Homo sapiens: one gene and its partners. The protein of the gene in region 5 purifies or fractionates together with the protein of the main gene of each other region. This does not show direct contact. Each region holds a gene or a part of one and is shown on either strand. Other genes may lie near its edges.

What was found.
Region 1: the proteins of FOXB1 (region 5) and SMC4 purify together in Homo sapiens (affinity purification with mass spectrometry; one large-scale study listed by BioGRID and IntAct). This does not show direct contact.
Region 2: the proteins of FOXB1 (region 5) and UBE4A purify together in Homo sapiens (affinity purification with mass spectrometry; one large-scale study listed by BioGRID and IntAct). This does not show direct contact.
Region 3: the proteins of FOXB1 (region 5) and NOVA1 purify together in Homo sapiens (affinity purification with mass spectrometry; one large-scale study listed by BioGRID and IntAct). This does not show direct contact.
Region 4: the proteins of FOXB1 (region 5) and RALY purify together in Homo sapiens (affinity purification with mass spectrometry; one large-scale study listed by BioGRID and IntAct). This does not show direct contact.
Region 6: the proteins of FOXB1 (region 5) and SMC2 purify together in Homo sapiens (affinity purification with mass spectrometry; one large-scale study listed by BioGRID and IntAct). This does not show direct contact.
Region 7: the proteins of FOXB1 (region 5) and IQGAP2 purify together in Homo sapiens (affinity purification with mass spectrometry; one large-scale study listed by BioGRID and IntAct). This does not show direct contact.

The regions. Positions count from the first base shown.
Region 1 is NC_000003.12:160,413,150-160,416,649, forward strand, and holds part of SMC4 (structural maintenance of chromosomes protein 4), read left to right. Parts: intron 1-323; coding exon 324-464; intron 465-1,217; coding exon 1,218-1,368; intron 1,369-3,101; coding exon 3,102-3,266; intron 3,267-3,500. UniProt on the Homo sapiens protein: Central component of the condensin complex, a complex required for conversion of interphase chromatin into mitotic-like condense chromosomes.
Region 2 is NC_000011.10:118,380,100-118,383,599, forward strand, and holds part of UBE4A (ubiquitin conjugation factor E4 A), read left to right. Parts: intron 1-1,120; exon of another isoform or gene 1,121-1,291; coding exon 1,292-1,424; exon of another isoform or gene 1,425-1,461; intron 1,462-2,489; coding exon 2,490-2,677; intron 2,678-3,500.
Region 3 is NC_000014.9:26,451,534-26,455,033, forward strand, and holds part of NOVA1 (RNA-binding protein Nova-1), read right to left. Parts: intron 1-3,500. UniProt on the Homo sapiens protein: Functions to regulate alternative splicing in neurons by binding pre-mRNA in a sequence-specific manner to activate exon inclusion or exclusion. It binds specifically to the sequences 5'-YCAY-3' and regulates splicing in only a subset of regulated exons.
Region 4 is NC_000020.11:34,077,411-34,080,910, forward strand, and holds part of RALY (RNA-binding protein Raly), read left to right. Parts: intron 1-1,094; coding exon 1,095-1,139; 3' UTR 1,140-1,143; intron 1,144-2,499; 3' UTR 2,500-3,500. UniProt on the Homo sapiens protein: RNA-binding protein that acts as a transcriptional cofactor for cholesterol biosynthetic genes in the liver. Binds the lipid-responsive non-coding RNA LeXis and is required for LeXis-mediated effect on cholesterogenesis.
Region 5 is NC_000015.10:60,002,841-60,007,110, forward strand, and holds the start of FOXB1 (forkhead box protein B1), read left to right. Parts: upstream 1-1,470; 5' UTR 1,471-1,803; intron 1,804-2,066; 5' UTR 2,067-2,123; coding exon 2,124-3,101; 3' UTR 3,102-4,270. UniProt on the Homo sapiens protein: Transcription factor expressed by neural progenitor cells in specific regions of the embryonic neuroepithelium. Essential for the mammillary nuclei maintenance.
Region 6 is NC_000009.12:104,100,809-104,104,308, forward strand, and holds part of SMC2 (structural maintenance of chromosomes protein 2), read left to right. Parts: intron 1-1,151; coding exon 1,152-1,385; intron 1,386-1,615; coding exon 1,616-1,765; intron 1,766-3,500. UniProt on the Homo sapiens protein: Central component of the condensin complex, a complex required for conversion of interphase chromatin into mitotic-like condense chromosomes.
Region 7 is NC_000005.10:76,401,818-76,406,084, forward strand, and holds the start of IQGAP2 (ras GTPase-activating-like protein IQGAP2), read left to right. Parts: upstream 1-1,467; 5' UTR 1,468-1,728; coding exon 1,729-1,774; intron 1,775-2,506; exon of another isoform or gene 2,507-2,558; coding exon of another isoform or gene 2,559-2,679; exon of another isoform or gene 2,680-2,714; intron 2,715-4,267. UniProt on the Homo sapiens protein: Binds to activated CDC42 and RAC1 but does not seem to stimulate their GTPase activity. Associates with calmodulin.

The DNA of each region.
Region 1 (3,500 bases), on a different chromosome or scaffold from region 5:
TTTTTTCTTTTTTTGGTAGAGATGGGGTTTCGCCATGTTGCCCAAGCTGGTCTCAAACTTCTGAGTTCAGGCAGTCTGCCTGCCTCAGCCTCCTAAAGTGCTGGGATTACAGGCGTCGGCCACCACATTGGTACAATGAAATCGATTTTTGTTCCTAAATTCTAGCCTTGACCCAGGGGGATTTTCCCCTCATAGCCTAGGCAGTCATATATTGACTAGTTAATAATATTTTAGAAACAGTTAGTTTTACTAAAATTGTTATACAGTTTTGGAAATGGCATTTTAGGAGCTTCAATTTCTTTTTTTTTTTTTCCTCCCTATAGTTATGAGTTGCAGAAACGAATTGCTGAAATGGAAACTCAAAAGGAAAAAATTCATGAAGATACCAAAGAAATTAATGAGAAGAGCAATATACTATCAAATGAAATGAAAGCTAAGAATAAAGATGTAAAAGATACAGAAAAGTAATAATATTTTGGGAAGTACTAAAAGTATTTAGATAATTGTATTACATGTGTATTTATATATAAAGTTACTTCTAGCACATTGTGAGTGTAAGACATTTGCCAGCATATCAAGTGGTGGCCCCCTTAGTGAAAAAAAAAAACTTGCCTTGCATCCAGTTCCTTGTTACAGATGAAATTCCCTACTCTGAAGTCTTAGAACCGTGGGGATGCTACCCCCTAGTGGCGTAGCACAGTAACAAACAATAAGCATTTGGCTTCACAGTTTAATCTTTTAGTAGTCCACAAATCTGATAGAGGGATAGGATTTGGGTTTTTCTAGATAGATTTTTAAGGGTTTTATCATGTCCCTACTTGATGCCATTTTTCAATGACACTAGTATCTCTAATTATTTTTAAATAAAAAAATTTGTATAGTAAGTTTATTGTATAGTAACTTGTAAGTATATTCGTAAAAGGTAAAACCAAAATTTTACTCCTATGGTAAAATTTTTATATACCTAGACATTGTAGTCACTGGAAAATGTGTTATTTTCCCTCCAACTTAGAAAGGCAAAATAGCTGTCATAATCAAAAATACAGGTGCTTCTTCAACTATGGGGAGAGGGATCATCTTGGAATAAGGAGAGTTTTAGGATCCTGCCTTATTAAGAGCCTGGACATATTTATAGAGGAAGTGTTCCAGGTAGGAAATGTGGTTTTAAAATATGTGCACATTCAAAATAATGACTTACAATATACTTGCTTTGCTAGGAAACTGAATAAAATTACAAAATTTATTGAGGAGAATAAAGAAAAATTTACACAGCTAGATTTGGAAGATGTTCAAGTTAGAGAAAAGTTAAAACATGCCACGAGTAAAGCCAAAAAACTGGAGAAACAACTTCAAAAAGATAAAGAAAAGGTAGGTGTTAGAAAAAAATTCTTAAAATTTCACGTCTGAATATCATACCTAGTTTTCATGGATGTGTTTGCCCCTTATTGCCTAAGAGAATGAATTAGTATTCTAAATGTTGTTTTAAGGTTTGTCTCTGAACATGATTTTACCCCCTCAAGGGAAACCTTGCTTCTACTGACTTTATTTTGCAGGAGGTTTTTTGTTTGGTTTTGGAATTTTGCAGAGATGGGGTCTCAGTCTGTTGTCCAGGCTAGCGTGCAGTGGTATGATTATAGTCTTGAACTCCTGGGCTTAAGAAACCTACCTCAGCCTCCCAAAGTAACGTGGACTACAGGTGTGAGCCATTGCTCCTAGCTTGACTTTGAGTTTTAAAGTTTATATTACAATAATATGTTATTGGGAAAACATTTACCAAATCAGGAGTTCCATTTTGGTGTTAATTTTAATTTTCTTTTTCCTAAAGTAGTAGTTTTTAAAGATATTTAAGTTAGGTATTACAGACTTAAAAATATTGCCTGTCTTCTACAAAAACTAAGCTAACAGGATCAGAGCAGGATTTCCCAAGAATTACCAATGTTGGCCAGGCACAATGGCTTACACCTGTATTCCCAGTGCTTTGGGCGGCCAAAGTTGGAGAATTGCTTGATGCCAGGAGTTTAAGACCAGCCTGGGCAACATAGTAAGATCCCATCTCTACAGAAAATCCAAAATTAGCCAGGCTCAGTGGAACTTGCCTAAAAGTCCTAGCTAGTCAGGAGAGTGAGGCGGCAGGATGCCTTGAGTTCAAGATTCCAGTGAATAGTGATCAAGCCACTGCATCCAGCCTGGGTGACAAAGTGAGACTCTGTGTCTTAAAGAGAGATAGGAAAGCTCATAATTTGGAATCTCTTAAGCTGTGTTCATGTTCATAGCTCTGTCATATTTAAACAGATATGATACCTTAACCCCAGCCCCGCAAAAAAAAAGCTTTGTTCCATATGGTTACACAATAATTATAGATTAGGCTCTACTTTACGCTATAAGCATTTTCTAAATGTATTTGTTCACAAAATACTTTCTGCTTAGCACAGCTGATAAATACGTTGAGTCAGTGTTTAAGGAAGTGGCATTTTGGGAAATGTTGAACTTCACAGGTACTAGATAATCAGAGTAAACAAAATAACAAGGCTTTGGGGGTAACCCCAAAGACTTGACAGACTTAGCTAAGTGTAACTGTTACAGAGTGATTAGCCTTTAGGCATAGACTGCATGGATAAGTGATTATTATCAGAAGATGTTAATGGAGTAAAATATTAGCCCTACATGATGACTCTGGAAGAGTAAAGTTGTGAAAGATTTTAGGGTTGGGGAGATGGTAAAGATAATTTGTGGTAAGTTATGATATACCAGGAAGGATAGTTTAGAAAATTCCGTGTAGTCAGAGCATATTTATAGCTAAAGAAGAATAATTACAACCTGAAATCAGGAGAGAAGGATGACAGACCTGAGGCCCTGCCAGAGACAGTTTTCCTTCATAAGAGGTCAGGTGTTTGTAGAAGTAGTTTTACTATTAGATTGAGAGAATATAGAAATTACAGTGAATAGTCGGGAAAATACTTGTTAAAGCTAGCTAATTTAACTCTGATTATAAAGAAAAGAAGAACTAGAGGACCCTGAGAAATGCCTTTAAATATGTCAAATATTGATAGTATTGGGTAACATAAAGATGTATGCTCCTATAACTTGTTTTATAATCTCAGGTTGAAGAATTTAAAAGTATACCTGCCAAGAGTAACAATATCATTAATGAAACAACAACCAGAAACAATGCCCTCGAGAAGGAAAAAGAGAAAGAAGAAAAAAAATTAAAGGAAGTTATGGATAGCCTTAAACAGGAAACACAAGGGCTTCAGAAAGAAAAAGAAGTAAGTTTTTTTTTTTTATCAGTGTTTATTTTGGTGGCTTTTTTTTTTTTAACTTAAAGATTATTTTTTCAAAAATACTGAAACCTGAACTGGTAAGTTTGGACTTTTAATGTCCAACATTCCTAAAACTAGTCAACCTAGACTTAGATGACTATTCTTTTAATTCCTGCTGACATGTTTTTTAAAAAGTTTACTAAATGAGAGTTTGTAGTAGTAGCAGAAGGTGTGATGTCA
Region 2 (3,500 bases), on a different chromosome or scaffold from region 5:
AACTCAGAAGGGAAAGAGTGTGTGTGTGTGTGTGCGTGTGTGTGTGTGTGTGTGTGTGTGTGTGTGTGTGTGTGTGTCAGTGAGTCATTGAGGGGTGGGCAGGTGTTGTCAATCTAATCAGGTTATGTGTTCTTAACCATTGTATTGGCCATATCATGCTGAGTAACAGATTACCCCAAAACATAGCAGCTTAAAACTACAGACTGGGTATGATGGTGCACGCCTGTAATCCCAGCACTTTGGGAGGCCGAAACAGGATGATTACTTGAGCCCAGGAGTTCAAGATTGGCCTGGGCAACATAGAGAGACCCTATCTCTACAAAAAATAAAAAATTAGCCAGGCATGGTGGTGCACACTTGTAGTTCCAGCTACTCAGGAGGCTGAAGTGAGAGAATCGCTTGAGCCCAGGAAGTTGAGGCCACAGTGAGCCATAATTGCACTACTGTACTCCAGCCTGGGTGACAGCAGGACCCTGTCTCAGAAAATAAATTAATTAATTAATAAAATAACAACAACAACTGCAAACAGCTCACTCACCTGCATTGTTCTGACTCAGAGTTCCTCAGGAAGTTATATAGCCAAGCTGTCAATCAGGGCCTTAGGAATCTGAGGACTCTGCTAGGGCTGGAGGATCCACTTACAAGCCCAGTCATGTGGTTGTTGACAGGCCTCAGTTGCTTGTGCTATTGGCCAGCAGCTTCTTTTCTAGGCCATGTATGTGTCTTCTAAATACTACTCATGATATGGCAGCTGGCTTCCCCCAGAGCAAGTGACCAAAATGGAGACTGTAAGCTTTTATACCCTAATCTTGGAAATGACATACTATCACATCTGCTGTATGCCTCAGAGTTTATCTTCTACTCTGAAAGAGTGAATGTGGGAGGGGACTGCATAAGGTCATGAATACCAAAAGGCAATGATCATTGGAGGACCATCCTGGAGTCTGGCTACCACAGTCACCTAACATATTAATCTTTATTAGAGAGTCCTCACACATCTGAAGGGTTTAAACCACAGTTAACCTTGAGAGTAAAAATGTATATATTAGTATACTGGTGTGTTAACATTTTGTGTCATTACTGTTCATATATTTACTTGAATAAAAATTTAAATTGACTTACATTTAAAGGAGATTTTACATTTATTGACTTAACGACCATCTCTAGTACCAACAAAACATTTAGGGTTTTTTTTAACCTTCATTAAGTAGGGTGAAAGGAATTTAAATGTTGTTTATTAGTACAGATATACAGATGTTTGGCTAATTCCAGTGAATATTTTCTTTTTCAGAATTTTTTGCAGATAACCTGGGTGATTTTCTCATTTTTCTCCGCCGCTTTGCCGATGACATTTTGGAGACATCAGCAGATTCCCTGGAGCATGTCCTTCACTTTATCACCATTTTCACTGGAAGCATAGAAAGGTGAAGTGCTGAAAGCTTGGTTCTGTCACTGTTTAGGCTGTAAAACATTCAGAAGACTTCTAAACCAAGAAATAAACAAGCCTGAATCATAAGGGGTTGCCTTCAGAAGTTATGGTAACATTAAGGAATCACCTGACCATCCATATGGGTAGCCAGAAATCCCACTGTTGAGAGGTATAATAAACAAAGGACTTTGTCCACAGAGAATTTAATCCTGCATATAAGTATCTTATGGGAAGTCCACTGCCAGTCCCTGGTTAAAGTAGTTAACCTAATGCCAGAAACTTAACAGTGGCAGCCAGGTGCTAATGATCTTCTAATAATTATATGATAATAAAGCTTATTCTTGCTATTCTGAGTTGGATGAGCAGTAAACTTAAGTCAATGTTATTTCTCATTTCAAGTTTTCTCACTCATAGCTTCTAGTCCTCTTTTCCAAAGGAAGATACTGTGACTTGTAGAATTGCTTCCCTGATTTTTTTGATGCATAGGCTAAAGGAAGTGGAAACTCTGTGTACAAAAGTGAAGATTTGCTGCACAATGAAGAGAATGACCCACAATTCCCTGAGCCGTATCAGTGATAAGTAGAGAGAAGCCATTTCTTCACTGAGCTGAGCATACCTAATGAGAAGTCATAAGTCAACAAGTATTATGCATACACTGTATGCGTCATGGGTAATGTAGCATAATTATATTCTAGTCTTTACCCTCAGAAAGCTTGAAAAGGCAAGTTTATTCCACATGAAACTGTCAGAGAATAGGAAGCAGTAAATAATGCATTATTACAGAGAAGTAAACAATGGCTAAGCATTCAATAGAAACTTAAGTGCTCACCGTCATATTTGGTAAGCTGTCAACTCAAGAGTTAAATGATGTACCCTGCATCACCACCCCACCCCCCGCCCAGCCGCACCAAGAAACTGACAAACTTAAAACTGCAGAAGTGGATCCTTTTTTTTCCTGTAATATGGTTTAGGGTGGATTTTGATTCTTATGTGGAGAGAACAGAGTCATAAATTTGGAGTTAAGCTTATCTGCTCATCTTGCTTTTTGCCCATTTTGCAGAATGAAGAATCCCCACCTGAGGGCCAAACTAGCAGAGGTGTTGGAAGCAGTGATGCCCCACCTGGATCAGACCCCAAATCCCTTGGTATCCAGTGTGTTCCACCGGAAACGTGTGTTCTGCAACTTTCAGTATGCACCCCAACTTGCAGAGGCTCTAATCAAGGTTTTTGTGGACATCGAATTTACAGGTAAAGCAGTCATGAAGCTGAGCCCAGAACTGGGAAGCTGATACCAGTGGAGTTTCATAGTTTGATCCGTATTTGGATATCAAAGAAATGTCAAGCCATTACTTATTGAATACCTACTATATGCCAGGCTTGATGATAAGTGCTTTTTTTTTTTTTTTAACATTATCCCATTGTCACCATTGGAAAAGTTTCACTCTATTATCCCTGTTTTATTTATTTTTTATTTTTTAATTATTCTTGTTTTACATATGAAGACATGACTGCCCAAAAGATCAGTTTGTCCATGTCATAACAAACTACCAAGTGGTAGAATCAGGTCTGTGTCACCTAAAGAAATCTACATATTCAACACCCTTATTATGTTGCATCATCAAATCAGACTCAAATTAGACTATTTGGGTCTTTATATTTCTCTGCCTTAAAATTACAGAATAGTGCATAAAGAGGCAGTGTATTGGTTGAGAGATTCTTTTATCTTAACCAGACTATCTAACTCTCCAACAGTCTAATGGTTCGATTAAAAATACCAGCAGGCGGACAGGCACAGTGGCTCATGCTTGTAATCCCAGCGTTTTGGGAGGCCAAAGTAGGCAGATCACTTGAGCTCCTGAGTTTGAGACCAGCCTGGCCAACATGGTGAAACCCATTCTCTACAAAAATACAAAAATTACCCAGGCATGGTGGCAGGTGCCTGTAATCCCAGCTACTTAGGAGGCAGAGGCACGAGAATTGCTTGAATTCGGGAGGCAGAGGTGGCAGTGAGCTGAGATCGCACCACTCCAGCCTGGATGACAGAGCAAGAAATCCCTCTCAAAAAAAAAAA
Region 3 (3,500 bases), on a different chromosome or scaffold from region 5:
AATTTTTGTATTCTTTTAGTAGAGATGGGGTTTCACCATATGTTGTCCAGGCTGGTCTCAAACTCCTGACCTCAGGTGATCCGCCTGCCTCGGCCACCCAAAATGCTGGGATTACAACCACGCCCGGCCAATACTCAAAAACTTTGAAATAATATATAATTTAAAATAGTGTTAACTTTTAATGACAGTAAACATCTTCCAAAAATATCCATATTTTTGAAAATTGAAGAATTATATGACAATGTCTATCTTTATATTAAAGGTGCTTTTATGTAGTTAATACTCATCTTCTGAATTTTAGTGTTTAACCATTTCAAAGAATCTTAAATAACAAATCTGTCAACCACAATCAATGTTTAATCAAATATTGATGTGGCCCCAAGTTTTGTTGGCAAGATTAAAAAACTAAAGATGTGTTATGACTTAAGACCAGACTTAATGTTTGCATCTTAGTAATTATAATATATAGCATTTTCTAACTTTAGACAATAGGCTATTCTGTGTAAGACTACCAAATTTAGAAAATTAATGGAAACATAAATATAAAAAGTTTCAAAATTTAATAAAAGTAAATACTTAATAGCTTACACAAGGCATTTATCACCCAATTTTTATTTTTGACAAAAGAACATGAGAATCCTCTTTGCCTTACACTGTCTTTTTTCTCTGAATAATTAAAAAATATATCCATACCTATTTGCACACAGTATTAATCTAATATGGGCAGAGAGAAGAAACAGACTCTCTGAAAAGAAGTTGAGACAAAAAACTGAAATTCAGTTAAATAACATTACAAGGACAGTAGTTTTATATTTACATTTTAAGTGTCGGGCCAGAGTTAAGGAAAAGTGAGAGAGAAAAACATGGAAGCTTTGAGATGGTGGACAACTGAATACTGGTGGGAAAAAACAGAGGAGAAGCAAAGAGAATTATGTAAGATAGATTATTTTCTCTTACTTCTTAGATAAAGGCATTTACCAAAGCAAATGTCTGTATACTGATAGTATTTAAATTCCAACTGAAACGACAAATAGCAAATTCTAACTGTATACATGGATTCATTTTCACTGGTGAAGTCTGCTAATGCTCTGGCTGAGAAAAATACACATATTCTTATTTCTAAAGAATCGGGAGAAAAGAACTGATCTTCAACGGCATACCAATTATTTGGTATAACATGTATAAAACTAAGTCAGATATGTTCTTGACAGTTACAAATCAGATTGCCCTTCAGAGTTATGATTATATTTGCTAGCATCTACCTAATCATTTATAAACGCTTACTGAATGGCCCAAGCCCTGTGTTGAAAGCTGGAGATAAAGGATATATATGACATTGTTCCTGCCTTTAAAGAGGTTATAGATAGTTGTAGAAAATGAGTGTGTATCAGTGCAGGAGTCTTAAGGGTGCTGCACAGAAGTATATAAGGTTATAAAGGAGACACAAAGTTTAACTGGAAAAAGAAAGAATAGGTAAGAAAATCCTCTAGAGATGAAGATATTTCCCTAATGGTCTTTACACTCTTTTTTCACAACCAAGTATTTCCATAAATTTGGTCACTATTGTTTCGGTGTTGGACAGTTCCTGTTTCAAATCTAAACCCATTTTAGCAGTGATGAACTGCTTCAATTATGTATGTATGTATGTATGTATGTATGTATGTATGTATGTATGTATTTATTTATTTTTAGAGAGGGGGGTCTCCCTTTGCCACCCAGGCTGGAGTACAGTGACACAATCATAGCTCACTGCAGCCTCGAACTCCTGGGCTGAAGCGATCCACCTGGTTCAGCCTCCTGAGTAGCTGGGATTATAGGTGTGAGCCACTGTACCCAGCTTAATACTACTACTTTTAAATTAAAAGAATCTTTACTTAAACCTTCCTTATTCTAGACTCACAAGTTATTTATCCAAAAAAAGATAAGATTAACAATATAATTATACTAATTATGCTAGCATCAACTGTTATCAGAAAAAAGTAATAAATTTACAATTTCTCTATTTGCAATCACAAAAGAACTTCTATAACAATCCTATGAGTTTTAAAAATACCACATAAACTGATTTTAATATTGATATGTTTCTAATTAAAAACAGACATTAAGATATATTTACTCTTTCAACAAATAAGAACTCCAACTCATGATGGTTTTATGGCTATAAAGGAATGAGACTACCTATAGGCATCATATTTCTTCATTATCATGGCAGAAAAATCATAAACTATTTAATAAAACCACATATTGAAGTAAATGCAAAACAACTTCCATTATAATTTGAGAGCTCCCAATTAATAGTATGAATTATTTTATTTAGGGCTGCCATATTTACTACACACATATGACATTACACTTACAAAGCAATTCCTATCAACAGTGGATACCTGTTATTTTACTCAGTCATTCAGTTGGTATCCAATCATTCTTCTTCTGGCAACAGAGCCCCTGTTTTCCTCTGGAAAACACCCTTTCTCATTCTTAGTGTATGTGCCTCAGATAAGGCTGACAATCTTTCAATATCTCTAGAACAGGGGTGTCCAATTTTTTGGCTTCCCTGGGCCACACTGGAAGAATTGTCTCAAGCTACACATAAAATACACTAATGATAGCTGAAGAACTTTAAAAAATGCAAAGAAAAAAAAAACAGAAAAGTTTTAAGAAAGTTTACGAATTTGTGTTGGGCCACATTCAAAGCCATCCTGGGGCACAGGTTGCACAAGCTTGCTTTAGAAGTAAAAACATGACCCAGGTCTGACCTATTGCTATACTCACACCCATAACCTTTACTGGTTTGGGTTTGAGCACATGACGCAGGATGGCCAAACAAGAGCATGAGAAGTTGGGAAACTTGTCGATAAAGAGATATTTGTGTTTCAAATCTAGTAGAACACCAGCCTGGCATTGCTAGTGGCTATCTTACCACTATTATGAGAAGAGGAAGAACCTGACTGAAAATGAAGTTAACTCAGATAAAAATGAGACTGCATTTTTTGGCATCTGAATCTAACCCTGTCTAAAGCCATCACAGAGGAAATACAACTCCCTTTTTTGCTTAAAGAAATTTGAATTGAATTATGATAATTTCTATAATTTTGAGGGCTTCTATAATTTGTAACTGACCAAAAAGTACCTTTGAAAATATTTTTACATTCTTTTTATATCATGCATTATTTGCCTATCAAAATACTGACATTTCATTTTATCTCTTAAACTTAATAGTCAAGATATCATAGTTCTGGTAAGGAAAGACATGTAGATTAATTTACTTTTTACCATGATATACACTATATAATCTAACCAGAAAAATGCCTTTTATTTTCCCAATGTATTACAATTTAGGATACTGAGGCTCCACTTAGTAGCATCCAGTGGAGATACATGTGCCATTTTGGGGAATCTACATTGAATTGTTGAACAAAGCAAATTGAAAAATGGTATCCTTTCGATTACAGACTTCAAATAAATAAAAATCTGCCTGTGTGAATGACTGATTTGATAAA
Region 4 (3,500 bases), on a different chromosome or scaffold from region 5:
GCACTTGCCTATCTCAGACACCATCAGAAGTCCCACTGAGGCCTAGGGCAGACCTCCCCCAAATGCGGGCACATTCTGGCCTCCGGTTTCCACATGAGTTGGAGAATGGGAGATTCGGACATAAGGGAGCACACACGGCCTGCAGAGCTTCAGAGCAGGGCTGGGGTGGCTTGTGGAGGCCACAGCCAGGAGGTGGGTTTTTCTAAAAGCCATTGCTGCTTAAGCATGAAGCAAAAGCTGTCTCATAAGGGGGTGAGCTCCCCGCCTGTTACTAGAACTATTCAGGCTGAGGCCGGCAGGCCATTTGACAAGGAGCTTATGTTGAGTGGGAGGGTGGACCAAACTCTGAGTCTGTGGGATATGGGTTGTACACTTGCTGCTCATTTACTTAATGAGCGCTCATTGAGCACCAAGACCCAGATCATACTCTCTAACTTCACATAACCTTAACAAGAGCCCTGTACTATGCAGAGTATTCTGTTCCCACATTTTACCCTGTGAGGAAATCGAGGCTCAGAAAGGCTGAGTGGCATGCTCAGGGCATCAGCTCGTAGGGACTGAGCCAGGGTTGGAGTCCAGACTGACTTGCTGGATCTGCAGCTTTCTCCTTTTCAGCACTGCTGGGTTCTATCGTGAGAACAGATGGGCTCATGGCCATGACGGTTAGGAGGTCTGCCTTATGCTAGCTCATCTCTCCTTTGAGCGTAGCCTGATCCTTCATCTTATTTTCTCAGGCATAGCAGTGTCCATAAAGGCCCTAACAAAGACTTGGATGCCCCCAGAGATGGGGAGCTCACCAGTCTATAAGGCTTTCAGCCTTCTCCAGTGCAGGCTCTCTGCACAGAAATGGGGCTCCTGCCACTCCCAGAACACCCTTCACTGGCCTGTGTGGGGTCCTCAGACCACCCTTCCAAGTTCCCAAGCCAGCTTTGTTGGCTGGTCCCATAGTCATTCCCCTTGGCTGTTCCTGCGTCTTCTGACTGTGTCCTCTAGATGCCCTCTGGACCATGAAGTTTTTCTGGACAAATGGCTCAGGGCAGGACTCAGAGCTGGCAATGAGTGATGTGTGGTCTCTCTTACCTCCTCCCTATCAGGAACACAGCCAGGACACAGACGCGGATGATGGGGCCTTGCAGTAAGCAGGTACAGGGGTCCTGTCCTGATGGGCAGAGGGTGGGGAATCAGTGAAGTGGAGGTTGTGCCTTTTCCCTGGATTGGGCAGGAAGTGTCACGAAGCATACCTGGCCAAGTAGCACTGACTATACCCAAGAATGAAGTCCCCTCCATATCTAGCCATCCCGTCACACCCCTTCATGCTTGGGGCTTGCCATGCTGAGGAAGCAGGTGCCGTAGATGGGCCAGGCGGGCCCACCTAGCAAGGGTTCCTTCCCTCAGCACACTCAGCCATGTTGCCTGTCTCTGCCCTTGAGGAGCTCCTAGTCTGGTAGAGGAAGACATAAGCCATTACCACCTAGTGTGAGCAGGATAACAATAGAGCGAGGCCAGGTCATGGAAGAGATGATGTGTAGCTGAGCCTGCTAGTGATTGAGGGAGCAATGTTCCACACCAGGGGAATGGCCTTAGCCATACAGAGCTGTGACAGTCCTTGGTATGTGGTGAGGCCAAGAGCCTCCTGTGGCTGCAGTGCCCCCCTAGTTGGTAGAGGACTCTGCTTATTGTCAGAGGGTGATGATTGTGAAGGGCCGTATGTGTCAGGCTTAGGGGCTGGGATTTGATTCTTTCATGGGGAGGAAATGCCCTGTGTGACAGGAGCTGCACCTGCTTTCTCTGAGTTCATCTTCAATCCCACAAGCTGATGATTGTACCAATATAATAGATGTGGAAACAGACACTAAAGGGTGCAGGGAGATAAGGTAGTAGTTGGTGGAGCCTGGATTTCAGCCCAGTGGTGTGTGGCTTCAAAGCCCACTCTCTGGCCACTGTTTACCATCTACTCTGCCCTACCTTAAAGGAAAGCCAGGCCACACCTGGCTGTGCCTACTACTCTCTGACCCATTCCCTTGGGGTGGCTTGGGTGGAGGAAGGTCTCAAACACTAGTGTTTCCAGGGAGGTGTCTGGATAGATGACACATTTATGCTGTAGTAAGATATCCCACCAGCAAAGGCTTCCAGAAGAGCTTTAGAAAATTGTACATATGCAGTCTTCTTTTGGAACTTCTTGGTTTGTTTTGCCTGGGATGCAAACAAACCTCCATATCCAGCCATCCTGCTACACCCCTTTGTGCCTGGTGCTTTCCAAAGCTTGTTAAAATAGTTCACAGGTGAGTTATATGGGCTCAGGTGAGGAAATGGAGGTTCAGAGAGCGGGTGAGACTTGCCCAAGGTTACATGGCCAGGAAATTATGAGGCCACAGCCAGAGTGCAAGAATCTCTCTGTCTCCAGACATCATTCCACCCTTTCTTCCCTACCCCTTTTATCAGCAACAGGGTCTCTTCCTCTCAGCCTTAGTCTCTTCTTTCTCTCTCTCTCTTTCTCAGCCTGACAGGAGCAATGGCCACCAGCAGGTGAAGGGCATCGCTGCCCCAGGCCTCAAGCCGGGCACCCAACCCTGGATGCCACCCCCCAGCGGGTACCAGAGGAAAGCTGGCAGCAGGCGCCTCCTCCCCCAACGCATCCCAGCCAGTGCCATGTCCTCTGCAGGTGGAGTTACTGGCCTACTCCTTCCCCATGAGCCCTCCCTGTCTGCACTGCCCAGGCCAGAGGGTAGAGCACAGGGGTTTCCCCATACTACCTCCCCTCCCCAGGACACTCCCAGGCTTGGGTTTTTTCTATAGGTTTGGCGGGGGGCCACAGGGAGGGGACCCTGACAATAAAGAGATTGGATCCCAACCTGTTCTGAGATGGGATGGTTTGTGTTTTCTCATGAAGATATCCCGGCCCCTCTGCCAACCAAAAAGCTGGTCTAGGGTGCCTAATACTGATCCATCTGGACCTTAGTGTCCTCAGTGGTGATTAAAATGGCCAGTGGGGCCACTGGGGAGGGTTGGATATGCTGGCCCATGAGCATCTTGCTGGCTGAAGTGTCAAGCAGTTGTGACCCACTTGGTTTACCCCATAGTAGGTCAAGACCTTATCTCTTTCCCCAGCTTCTAAGTCTGGTCTTTCCCAGCTCTTAAAAGGATTCTAGAGTCTGCCAGTCTCTACCTTCTCTCTTCTGGCTTAGGACACTATAATTTTTTCATTTGGACGTTGTCCTCCCACCAGCCTCCCAGTCTTCTGCCTCTGCCCTGTACCATCTCCCAGCAGCCACGCAGTCTTTCTGAAACGTATCCCTTCCCTGCCTAAAATCCCTTTACTGACTCTTCATCATCAGGACAAAACCCTACCTCCTGAATGTAGGGTGTAAGATCCTGCTTACTCCAGCCTCTCCTGTTTCTTGTCACCACCCCTTTCCTGCCCCTGACACAAACCCTACATCTCAGTCTCACAAAACACACAAGTTCTTCACACTCCGGGCAGGTTTGGTAGCAAGGAATAG
Region 5 (4,270 bases):
TGTGGGCTGTAAGTATTGAGTTTTTAACAACGCAGTAAAATGAATGTCTTTTAAAAACCTTAAAGGTCGGAGAATGTGCAGAAACCCGTGGGAACTCCTGGTGTGTACTTATAGAGTGCGTGCATGCAGGCGGGGTCGACTCACTATTTATTTCATAGCAATTTGATGATGATGATGATGACGGCAGCGACGACGATGAGGATAATGATAATAATAATAATGATTCATTTAACCCTTCCAAGGCGAATCCGAACCGAAGGGAGCCTGCTGCTCGCACCAGGCGGAGTGACCCAAGGCACATTCCCCGCTCCCCAAGAAGGAAAACTCTATGGTTCTTTCCCCAAGTTGTAGAAGATACTGCTGTCTTAGTGGGATCGCAGGCGGCTTTTGCTACACTCTAAATCCTAAATAAGTTCTCCATACCAAAAAAAGCGGCAGTTGGGGGATGGGGGGTGGGAGGTTGGGGGGGTGGGAGGGCTGGGAAGGGGAGTTCCGGGTGTAAAATGAAAACTTCCAGGATGTGCCTGAGTCCTAAAGTTTCAAACCACCTGGGAAAAGCGAGAGCCCCTGAGGCTTACCTGGTGATAAACTGTGTCAAACAAACTCAGGCCCTCCCCAGGTCCGCACAACATTTGCCCCAACAGCTCCTGAGCCTCCATCCTGTGTCCAACCAAATTCCCGGAGGACTTTTAAAGCAAATACCTGGACTCTTCGCCCAGATACACTATTTTAATTTTTAAAAATTTGGTCAATACAGTTACATTCAAAATGGGTTCTTACATGGGGATGTCCAATCACATTTTGAAAGTATTTGTAAACCCCATCACTTTTTCAAAGCTACACACTAACTATACAAAGCTGAAGCAGCTGCATAGGAAAGTCAAGTCAAATTTCGACCTAACTCTCCGGGGACTGGGGGGCAAGGGTGTGTTTTCATTATTATAACCCATGCAACCAACCCCGGGTAGTGCTAAGCGCAGGAAAAGGGTCGGCTTCAGGGGAAAGCCGTGCCTAAAGTTACCTAACGATACAAACCGGATACAACGCAGAGGAAACAGAATACCCCAGCCAAGCAATTTCCATGTCAAACATCATCCGCGCGGCTGCTCCATCTGTGAACGTGAGTGGTCGCCTGGCTCCCTCTTCCGCGGCGGCCGCTTCCTCATACCTTCACACGGCGCACACCGGCCGGCGCGTCCAGCTGCCTGCCCAGTGGCCGAGGCTCTTCCCCCTCGCCCAGTCTTGAGCTGGAAGTGATTCCTATTGGCCAAGGTGTCCATGTAAATAGGTGTGAAAGAAACCAGAGCTGGCCGGGCTCTCCCTTCTCGCTCAGTCCCCTCCCTCTGCAGCCCCCGCTCCCCCTCCTCTTCCTCCTCCTCCCAAGGCGATTGTCATATGATAGCTAAGAAGTGGCACATTAATGAAGCGCCGCTACAGGGGTCTTTTCTGCTCCTGTCACCGCTTAAAACTATCAGATGGTTCGAGGGAGGACATGGAGGCAGCCACCTAGCTCAGCGGAGACGCGGAGCCCACAGCAGCGCCCTCCGGAGCCCTAACACGTCGCTGCCACCATCCGCGCCGGGACTCCGCAGCCGAGCTCGGCCGCCCGCAGGACGCTCCAGGAGCGTCGCGGACCGGGCGGCACGGGACGCTGCGGGGCTGAGCTCAAGAGCCCAGGTTCGCGCCGAGTCCAACCGGACCCGGACGCTGCGCGCGGAGTGCGCGTCGAGTGCGCGCCGAGAGAGAAGCGGCGCGCAGCGGCGTCCTCCCGGATGCGGACGCGCAACTTGAAGCAACTTTAAGGTGAGCAGCTCTCTGTTCCGTCCCTGCCCCCTATTCTGGCCCCAGTACCGACTTACTTCCCGGCTATCCTCGCGCCGTTCGCCGGCTTCCCCTCCCGCGCCCACTAAGCCCGCAAAGTTGCTGGCGAAAGAGTCCGGGCGCTGGCTGATCGAGCGCCGCAGGCCCCACCCCCGACCCCCGAAGTCTGTTACTCGGTCTGGCTGACCCCGCCGGTGTCTCTGTGCATCCATGCTACCTTTCCCTATTACCCACCCCCTTCCCAGATCCGAGCAGTCCGCCGGCCCGCGCGGACCCAGAGCAAGAAGAGGGCGAGGAAGAAGATGCCTCGGCCCGGCCGCAACACGTACAGCGACCAGAAGCCGCCCTACTCGTACATCTCGCTGACCGCTATGGCCATCCAGAGCTCTCCCGAGAAGATGCTGCCGCTGAGCGAGATCTACAAGTTCATCATGGACCGCTTCCCCTACTACAGGGAGAACACGCAGCGCTGGCAGAACAGTCTGCGCCACAACCTCTCCTTCAACGACTGCTTCATCAAGATCCCGCGGCGGCCGGACCAGCCAGGCAAGGGCAGCTTCTGGGCGCTGCACCCAAGCTGCGGGGACATGTTCGAGAACGGCAGCTTCCTGCGGCGCCGCAAGCGCTTCAAGGTGCTTAAGTCCGACCACCTGGCGCCCAGCAAGCCAGCCGACGCGGCGCAGTACCTGCAGCAGCAGGCCAAGCTGCGGCTCAGCGCGCTGGCGGCCTCGGGCACGCACCTGCCACAGATGCCCGCCGCCGCCTACAACTTGGGCGGCGTGGCGCAGCCCTCGGGCTTCAAGCACCCCTTCGCCATCGAGAACATCATCGCGCGGGAATACAAGATGCCTGGGGGGCTGGCCTTCTCCGCCATGCAGCCGGTGCCCGCTGCCTACCCGCTCCCCAACCAGTTGACTACCATGGGCAGCTCGCTGGGCACCGGCTGGCCACACGTGTATGGCTCCGCCGGCATGATCGACTCGGCCACCCCCATCTCCATGGCGAGTGGCGACTACAGCGCCTACGGCGTGCCGTTGAAGCCGCTGTGCCACGCGGCGGGCCAAACGCTGCCCGCCATCCCCGTGCCCATTAAGCCCACGCCGGCCGCCGTGCCCGCGCTGCCTGCGCTGCCAGCGCCCATCCCCACCTTGCTCTCGAACTCGCCGCCCTCGCTCAGCCCCACGTCCTCGCAAACAGCCACCAGCCAAAGCAGCCCCGCCACCCCCAGCGAAACGCTCACCAGCCCGGCCTCCGCCTTGCACTCGGTGGCGGTGCACTGACCCGCAGGAGCCCACGCCCCCTCTCGTTCTCCTCCCCACCACCTCACTCGCCTTCCCTGGCTCCCAGTCCTGCCGGCCCCCACCTGGGACCGCCACCCTAACTTGTTCATTTCACCTTCGGCCAACCCGCCTTGCCCCAAGAGAACTTTGTTTTGGACCCAGGAGACCAAACACAAACTTGCAGATGGGCCGAGAGGCGCGTGGGAGTTGTCCTCGCCCCCACATCAAGGAAGGCCGGGGCCACCTGAGCCGAACCATCCCCTCCCTGAGGCCCCGAAACCCCCTCCTATTTGACCGGCGGGGGAAACCCTGTCACCCCCTCTTCGCCGAGAAAAGCGCGTCTTCCCTCCGCCCAGATCGGCGGAGCCCCGAACTCTGCGCAGTTTCAAGACTAGAGAAACTGCCTCAGATGTTTCCAGGAACAGATCCCCCCCACACCCCCTCCCCGCGAGGGCTGCAACAGCGCAGGGGAGGGCCGGATCTCTTTACGTCTTGGAAATCTGCAGCAAAAAGGAGCCACTAATCTTCCTACCCCACTCGCCTCCGCCCATCCGGCAGGGGCTGGGCCGACCACAGCTTCCCGGGGTTGCGGCCCTGCCTCCTAGGCTTCTGCGGAGATTTTGTTGTTGTTTGGGGTTTTGTTTCCTTCCAGAGGCTCCAGGCGCTGGGAGTTAGGAAAGAGGCTGCCAAGCTGAGAAAGCGACGCTCGTCCTCACACAGCAAAACAAAACTAAAAGTAACCTTGTATTGTTTACAAAGCGCCCAGTAATATGTAAACAGTGAACTTGAATCTGTCTTGCTAGGCGGACGAACGGGCAAAGCCCACATTATAAGTACCTGTTGTAATGTGAATGTTTACTCTTCATTTCTGGCCAGGTTTAGAAAGGGAGGGAAGTGGGGATGGGAAAGTTAATTGGGATGTTAACTTTCCGATGACTTAGAGACCTTTTTAGCTATTTATTTTATTGTTGGGAAAAAAAAAAAAAAAAAAGAAGGAAAGAAAATGAAATAAGCCCAAACCAAGAAAGCATCAAGGGCAACCCGGGAAGAACTTAGATAAGCTGACTGGTAACATGAAGGGATGTCACCGGATAGCTCTCCCACGGACAAGTCTTTCTGTTTGCTACCAGAACTTTTCCAAGAAGCTAAAGGGCTGCAAAGAGATGTAA
Region 6 (3,500 bases), on a different chromosome or scaffold from region 5:
TAATTATTGCTATCAAGGTATTTTGTAAGCAAAAGGTATTGAAACAGAGGATTGGATTGTCTCTGTAATCTTTGCAGCTCCTGACTGTCAAAAGACATGGCACAATATGTCATCAAAAAATGCATTTATGAGCTACGTTTTCTTTTTCTTGAGACTAGTCTCACTGTCGCCCAGGCTGGAGTGCAGTGGTGTCATCACAGCTCACTGCAGCCTCCACCTCCCGGTCTCAAGGGATCCTCCCACCTTAGCCTTCTGAGTAGCTGGGACTACAGGTGCATGCCACCACACCCTGCTAGTTTATTTTTTTGTAGAGACAGGGTTTCTCATTGTTTCTCAGGCTGGTCTTGAACTCCTGGGCTCAAGTGATCCACCTGCCTCGGCCTCGCAAAGTGCTGGGATTACAGGAGTGAGCCACTGTGCCCAGCCAAACGACGTTTTTAAAGCTATCTCCTTTTAGGAATTTATTAAATGCTCATTGAAATTTGGTACTACTCAGAGCTGTCTTGTGAATCCATATAGTAGTATAAATTTTACTGGAAAAATTGTAATCTTGAAGATACCCTTTTTGTATGTATGATTTAGTAGAAAACACTAGATCAGGAATTTAAACTTAGGTCCTAGACTTCATTTTGCCACAATTGCTTTCTAAATCTAACAACATGGACAGATCATTTAATCATTCTGAATTTGTTTTTTATGTATAAATTAAGGATTTTAGTTATTACTTTGTCTGGTCCCAGTAGGTCCTTATGGGAGTCGTGTTTAGTAATGATGTAAGCGAGTGCTTGTAGTAGTGCTTCAAAGTATATTAGAGTAGGCATCTTGATACTACTACTACAGAATCCATGTAATAGTGTAACATGGTGGGTGTGTAAGCTTATGAACCTTATGTCCATATTTCTTTGTTAAGCTCAACTACCCAAGTGTGTGTTAGAAGAAATAGCCAAATAAGATTCACTAGAGATGGTAGAATGCTATCTAAAAGTCCTGACTTCTGATGTTACGTAAAGTTTCCTACAATTTAAAATGCTATAATTGTTTAATACAGGACAAAATCTATTATGTAATGAGAAATTTGTTTCATCTTGCATAATTGAATTTTTTTTTTAATACAATTTTGAGTTATTCTTTTTTTGTGATTTCTCTTTCAGGAAAGATCGTCCTACTTGGAGTACCAAAAAGTAATGAGAGAAATAGAACATTTGAGTCGTTTATATATTGCTTATCAGTTTTTGCTGGCTGAAGATACCAAAGTACGCTCAGCTGAGGAATTAAAAGAAATGCAAGATAAAGTTATAAAGCTTCAGGAAGAATTGTCTGAGAATGATAAAAAAATAAAAGCACTTAATCATGAAATAGAAGAATTGGAAAAAAGAAAAGATAAGGTCTGAACATATGTATAAGAATCGATAATATACTCTGTGAAAAACGTACTAAATTATATATAGTAACTATTTAGGATTCATTGGGCATTGTCTTCCGTATTGATTTGTTAATCTTATAGTAAGATAATGAAATAACTTATAAAAAAGTGTTTGATACAGAACTCATACAATAAAATGACAGCGTGAACAAATTTTACATAAGTGATTGAATTGACTGCATTTTGTTATAGGAAACTGGAGGTATACTTCGATCTTTAGAAGATGCTCTTGCAGAGGCTCAGCGAGTTAATACTAAATCTCAAAGCGCATTTGATCTCAAGAAGAAAAATCTGGCATGTGAGGAAAGCAAACGCAAAGAGCTGGAAAAAAATATGGTTGAGGTAAGTGAGCTTAATGTGCCACTAGTGCCACTTGTAGACAAGTATATAGTCTCATTAGTGTACATTTATCTATTCCATGAATATTTAGTGAGTGTCTTCTATAAGCTAAGTACAGTTGTTTGGGCTGTGGTTACAACTGGACCAAATGGTCAAAAATCCTTGCCTTGTGGACCTTCATTCCATTGGGGGAAATGATAATAAAGAAAATAAATAAAACATGTAACATGTTATAGAGTGATAACTGATGTGGAGAAAAAGCAGGGAAGGGGATTAGGAGTGTAGGGGAAAAAGAGTACAATTTGGGATTTTAAGTTGGATAGCCACTGAAGTAAGTGGAGAATAGGAAGAACGGGTTTGATAAGCTTAAGAAATACAGTATGAATATAATAGGCTTGAGGAGCCTGTTAGACATCTTGAGTAGTGATGTTGATTAGGTACTTAACTATATGAATATTGAATCCAGGCAAAAATACAGATTTGGAGGCATCATCAATGTATAGGTGTTATTTAAATCCATGAGACTAGATAAAATGATCAAGGCTGTAAGTTCATATAAGAAGGTTGGAGCCCTGGGATACTTTCAACGTTTGAATGTTAGGATAGTTCAACATTCAAAAGAGATTGAGTAGTGTGAGGAAAATTAGGCCAGTAAATTGTCCTGGAGTCCAGGTAAAAAAGATGTTTCAAGGAGAAGTGGCCATGAGTACCTGATTAGATTGTGTTCATACTCTCACAGAATGAAGGCAGAAAAAAGAAAAGTGAATATAGATAACTTTTTGAGAAGTTTTCTGAAAGAGGGATAAATAGGGAGGTAACTGGAGGGTAATACAGAAGAGAGTTTTTGGCTTGATTTGACATGGGATAAATAAATTCTATATTGACAGAAAAGATCCAGTAGAAAAGTCGTCATTTGTGATTCAGGAGAGAGAGATGGGAGAGTTGTTAAAATAGGGCCCCTTAGTAGCTGCAAGTAGGATAGGAACTAGTGTATAGAGGAGGTCGCCTTCGCGAGAACTAGGAATAGGTCATCCATGGTAACAGAAGAGTCAAGTATATAGTCTCACATGTAGGTAGATGAGTAGGTGTGTTTTTGGAGCTTATGGCATTTCTTTTGAGGGTGATTCTGTTGTCCCAGTGAAGGTATACATTTGCCTTTTCACTGAAAAAAAATTAACTTTGTGAAAATAATTTCTTTATACTGCCCTGTTAGATATTTTTGCAGAGAAATACATTGTTGAATTAAGAAACAGTGGAGGAAAATTTAGACAAAATTTTGAAGCGATATGAACGTGTTGTAGCAGTCTGTGTTGTGGCATCCAAGAACTGAAATCAATTCATCAATTACTTTTTTTTTTTAGGTGAGGTTTGTAAAGCTCTAAACATGTGGACCTGCCTTGTTTTGGGTTCATTTTTCTTTAGTCTTGTCATGTCCTTAAGCTTCACACACTGATTGCTCCTTTTTCATCCTTCTTTTCTGTATCCCCTTATTCTTCTAGATCTCTTAATGTTAGTATGCCCTAAGGCTAGCACTCTGATATCTTTTATAAACTCTCACGCCATAGGTGGTCTCATCCAGCTCTGTAACTCTAAATATCATCTATATGTTGATGCCCTCCAAATCTATAAGCAGGCTTAACTCCCTAAACTCTATGAAGCAGGTTTATTGTGTGCAGATTACCAACTTGTCTGAAGCCAGCAGACATAACACATTCATACACAACATTTTATGTGAAAT
Region 7 (4,267 bases), on a different chromosome or scaffold from region 5:
AGAGCCACCCTAAGCACGCTCTGCAGTGTCAGCATCACCTGGCAGTATGCTAGAAATTAGAAATGCAAATTCATGAGCACCAGCCCAGACCCATTGAGTCGGAAATTCTGAGGGTGGGGCCCAAGAATGTGAGTTTCAACAAGTTTGAGAAGGACTGCGTCTCCTATATGAAATGGAAAACAGCTGCTCATCCTCTGTATCCTTGCATAATAAAAAATGATTAGTGTCACTATGCCACCATTTCCTCAGCGAAATAATTTCCATCCCCCCACCGCCTCCGAGGGTCTTGCACTCTCACCCAGGCTGGAGTGCACTGGTGCAATCACAACCCACAGCAGCCTTGTCCTCTCGGGCTCAAGCAATCCTCCCACCTCAGCTTCCTGAGTAGCTTGGGACTGCAGGCGCAACCACCACGCCCGGCTAATACGGCTAATATTATTTTTTCATTTTTTGGAGAGACGGGGTCTCGCTATGTTGCCCAGGCTGGTCTGGAACTCTTGGGCTCAAGGGATCCTTGTGCCTCGGCTTCACAAAGTGCTGGGATTACAGGCGTGAGCCGCCGCGCCCGGCTCTAAATAATTTCTTATCGCCCTCCCTCAGTTTGTTTTTCCTGTTATCGGGTCACCCACACATTCCACAATTGTCAAATAGGTGAGGGCACAGGTACGGAAGCGTCCCGCATTCCCTCCAGATTTTATCACGCTGAGACACAAAGAGAAAAATAGCTCCTGGCGACCGCATGAAAACCCCGATTTCAAAACAGCCACATGCAGTTTAATTTCCTTAAAAGCTTAGCCGGAAAAGGTTTCTGTGGCTTGCGACCCCAGCTGGGCTTGAGAGAAGGCTCTGCACACTGGGGCGGGGGCGGGCACAAGGTGATCGGAGGGAGGGGGATGACTCGCAGTTGTGTTTTGAGTGGTTGCCTTGGGTTATCTTGTTCCTCCAGCACACACACACTCAGTTTCTTGTCATAAGGGGAACCCTGTTATTTTGTAGACAAAAAGTGACAGAAGCAACTTTCGAAGCAAAAAAAAAAAAAAAACAAAAAAAAACAAAACCAAAAAGACGAAGAAGAAGAACAAAAGTCAACGTGAAATCTCCCCAGAGGAAAAGGAACCGCGCTGTTTGTCCCTCAGTAACTGAGCAACACCCCGGACACGAAGGGCTCCCTGTGACTTCTGCGGTTTTTCTTGCACTTCTCCGCGTTGGTTCACTTCCACCCTCGAAACTCTCCAGAAGCGAGAAATAAGGCGGGGTGGCCGCCACCCCCAGGCCACCAGCTGTGCGGGGGCCCCAGCTGCAGGGGGTCCCGGCCCAGCGTCCCTCTCGGCCCCTTCCCTCTCCCCCGGGGGAGAAGGGGCGGGTCCACGCGGCCTGGGCGCTGCGCCCGACACGCGGTAGGGGTCGCTGCGTCTCGGCGCGCGCTCCCACCGCGGTGAATAACGGGGCCTGGCTGGAGGAGAAAGGAAACCTGCTGCGGGAGGCGGCGGCGACCGGCCAGGGAGCGAGGGAGGAGAGTTCACTTTTACTTCAGTGTCAGCGCGCGGCGGCCGTGGCTGGCTCTGGCGAGAGAGCACCGAGGGAGTGGGTCGCAGATCTTCGGGCGGCTAGGGGAAATCGGCGAGAGGCGGGATCCGAGCGCGCCGGCGGGGCGCAGAGCCCGCGAGCCTGGCCAGCGAGGGTAGCCGCGGGGGGCGCGCCCCGGGCGGGCCCCCGGAGACGCGCAGGATGCCACACGAAGAGCTGCCGTCGCTGCAGAGACCCCGCTATGGCTGTAAGTGCGCCGGGCGCGCGGGGTTCCTGCTGGCCTTGGGGAGCTCCCTCCCCGAGGACGGCGTTGGAGAAGCCGAGGGAGCCGGTTGCGCGGCGCAGAGGAAATTGGAAGGCAGCAACTGCGCGGCTGGCAAAGTTGGGAGCTGGAGTTGCAAAGGGCAGTGAATCGCGTCCCCCCGCTCCTCCCGCCCCCCAATTCCTAATATCCAGCTGGCAACCCAGACCCTCCACTCCGCATACCCAAACGGGGTGCGCGGGCAGTGCGGGGATTGCGCTCTGGGACAGACCAGGTTGGGATTTTAGGGGTATCAGGTGAGGAGTCCGCGGAGCTCCGGGTCGCCGCCGGCTTGGGCCAGGGGGTGGCGTAAGGCACCGGATTCTTCCAACCCAGAAGGGGAGGAAAGTTTGTTTGCTGTGGCTACAGGTGGGCACCGCAAGTAGGGCGCCGGCGCACTCTGCTAGTGCAAAGCCGGCTTGACTGGAAGGGCGGGAGTCTCCTCCTGTCCCGCGCCCTCGAACTTCACCTGACCCGCTAGAGCCATTGGCCTCACAGGTGTAAGTCCCTCCCCTCTGAAACCCCCCAACCCCTTTCCCCCCCGCTCCCCTCGCGCGGGAGGATTGCTGTGTGGAGAGGACGCGGCACTAGGCTCCGGGGAATCCGGCGGGAGCCCGCGTGACTTGAACGAGATGGTGTCGATTACCCAGCCAGGGGCTGCCCTCGGAAATAGGTTGCTTTGGCCGATCGTGAGTGGATGGAGCCAGATTAACACCAACCACGTGGCTTCATGTGCAGAGTTCAGAGTCCTAAACATGTGCCAGGAAGCATTTCCTTTAAAACAAACAGAAAGTTGGCCTGCTGTCTCTCCAAGGTGGCCCTGTCAGTGAACCCAAGGCCGAAGACCACAGGTTAATCTTTGCCCAGGCTGGCCTTGGTGGCAGAGGTACCAGGTTTGGGTTAAGGTGGTGATACCTTCAGCAGGGTGTTTTGTTTGTGTGTGTGTGTGGTTTTGGATGGTGCGTAAGGCCACTGACTTGCTTAACTGAAAAAGGGCTCCTCAACTTGTGTAGGTTCTTTCCCCTCCTCCCCGCTGGCGTGTCAAAGATGGGAGGTTATCTTTCCTGTGTTACCCTTGCAGTGAGGGGGAGGCCTGAGGACTACAGCCTCTGTACTCTAATGCATTCAGCAGTTGACTGAGACCCAGCTTTTTGCCTTTTGGTAAACCACACAGACAGCAGAGCCTCTTGGGTTCAAGAGGGAACGCTGTGCTCATTCAGTGTTTGCAGTGCCAACCTCAGGTGGGACCCAGCTTTTTGCCTTTTGGTAAACCACAGATACAGCAGAGCCCGTTGGGTTCAAGGAGGAATGCTGTGCTCATTCAGTGTTTGCAGTGCCAACCTCAGGTTGGTGGAAGTACTTTAATGTGACCAGCTCTCAGAATATATGGTGGCTTCACTGTGTCAAATGATAAGATAACCACAAACTTCTGCAAACTAGGTGAATCTACATGAACAAATGATTTCTTGCTATCACATGATTGATGTCGGCCCTCATGAGCAATAAATAGTGCAAAATTTCCGTGAATGTGGTACATGAATGCAGCATTTCTGTCAGTCCCTGCATGTGCATCTGTGATGCTGCTTGATTTTCACGGAATAAATCTGTGTTTTAAGTGCACTCCAGAAGAAGCTATCAAGGGAGTCCAGATCTGGCAAGCCTGAAGCCCACTCCACAGGGCCGCTTTCTTTGGAAATCTTCATCCAGCTTTCTTCACCAATGTGGTGTAAGGGGGTGGTGTGCCATCTTGTTGGAATCACTCCCGGTTACTTTCCCTCCACTCATCAAGTGCTGGCATTCAAGTTGGTCACTTAACACTGTCAAAATGGAAAATATTTGCCTATGTTTCCAGACTTTCTTGTCACCCTGAAATATTAAGGCTTTAATATGACAGTTATCTCATTAAAATGAACACTTTTATAATTTTGGTTTATGAATGGTGTATTTTCAGTGTATTCAGAACATGATATCTAGCAGAATAGATTTTGGCGTTAATAGGCATTACCTAACATTACCTATTCATGCAGAAGAGGGCTATTTGGTGTGTTAGTGTAATTTCTGGTTGTTGTTGGCTTTCTGAGCCTCCTATCAACATGAGACTGAAAATCGTGCTGTGAGCTCTTCATGGGAAGGCTAGGGAAGGATAACACAGGATTGTCCTTGCTCTGTTGTGTTCTAGGGCTGTGCTTTTTCTTGTTTATTGGTTTGGTAAATACAGTTTCAGTAAAACCTCAAATTATAAGAAACAGGTGTTACCCCTAGCATTTAAAAATAAAGTAGCAATACATTGTAATTTCAGTTCTAGTGCTGAACGTTCTGAGTATAAGATGTTTGAGACTGGGCTTTAAACACAACTTTTTGGTAGTTTGAATTAAGTTGTCTATTGCTTATTTTGGGTCTGAGCTTCTGTTCTGCTCTCTCTCCTACCCACTTGACTCC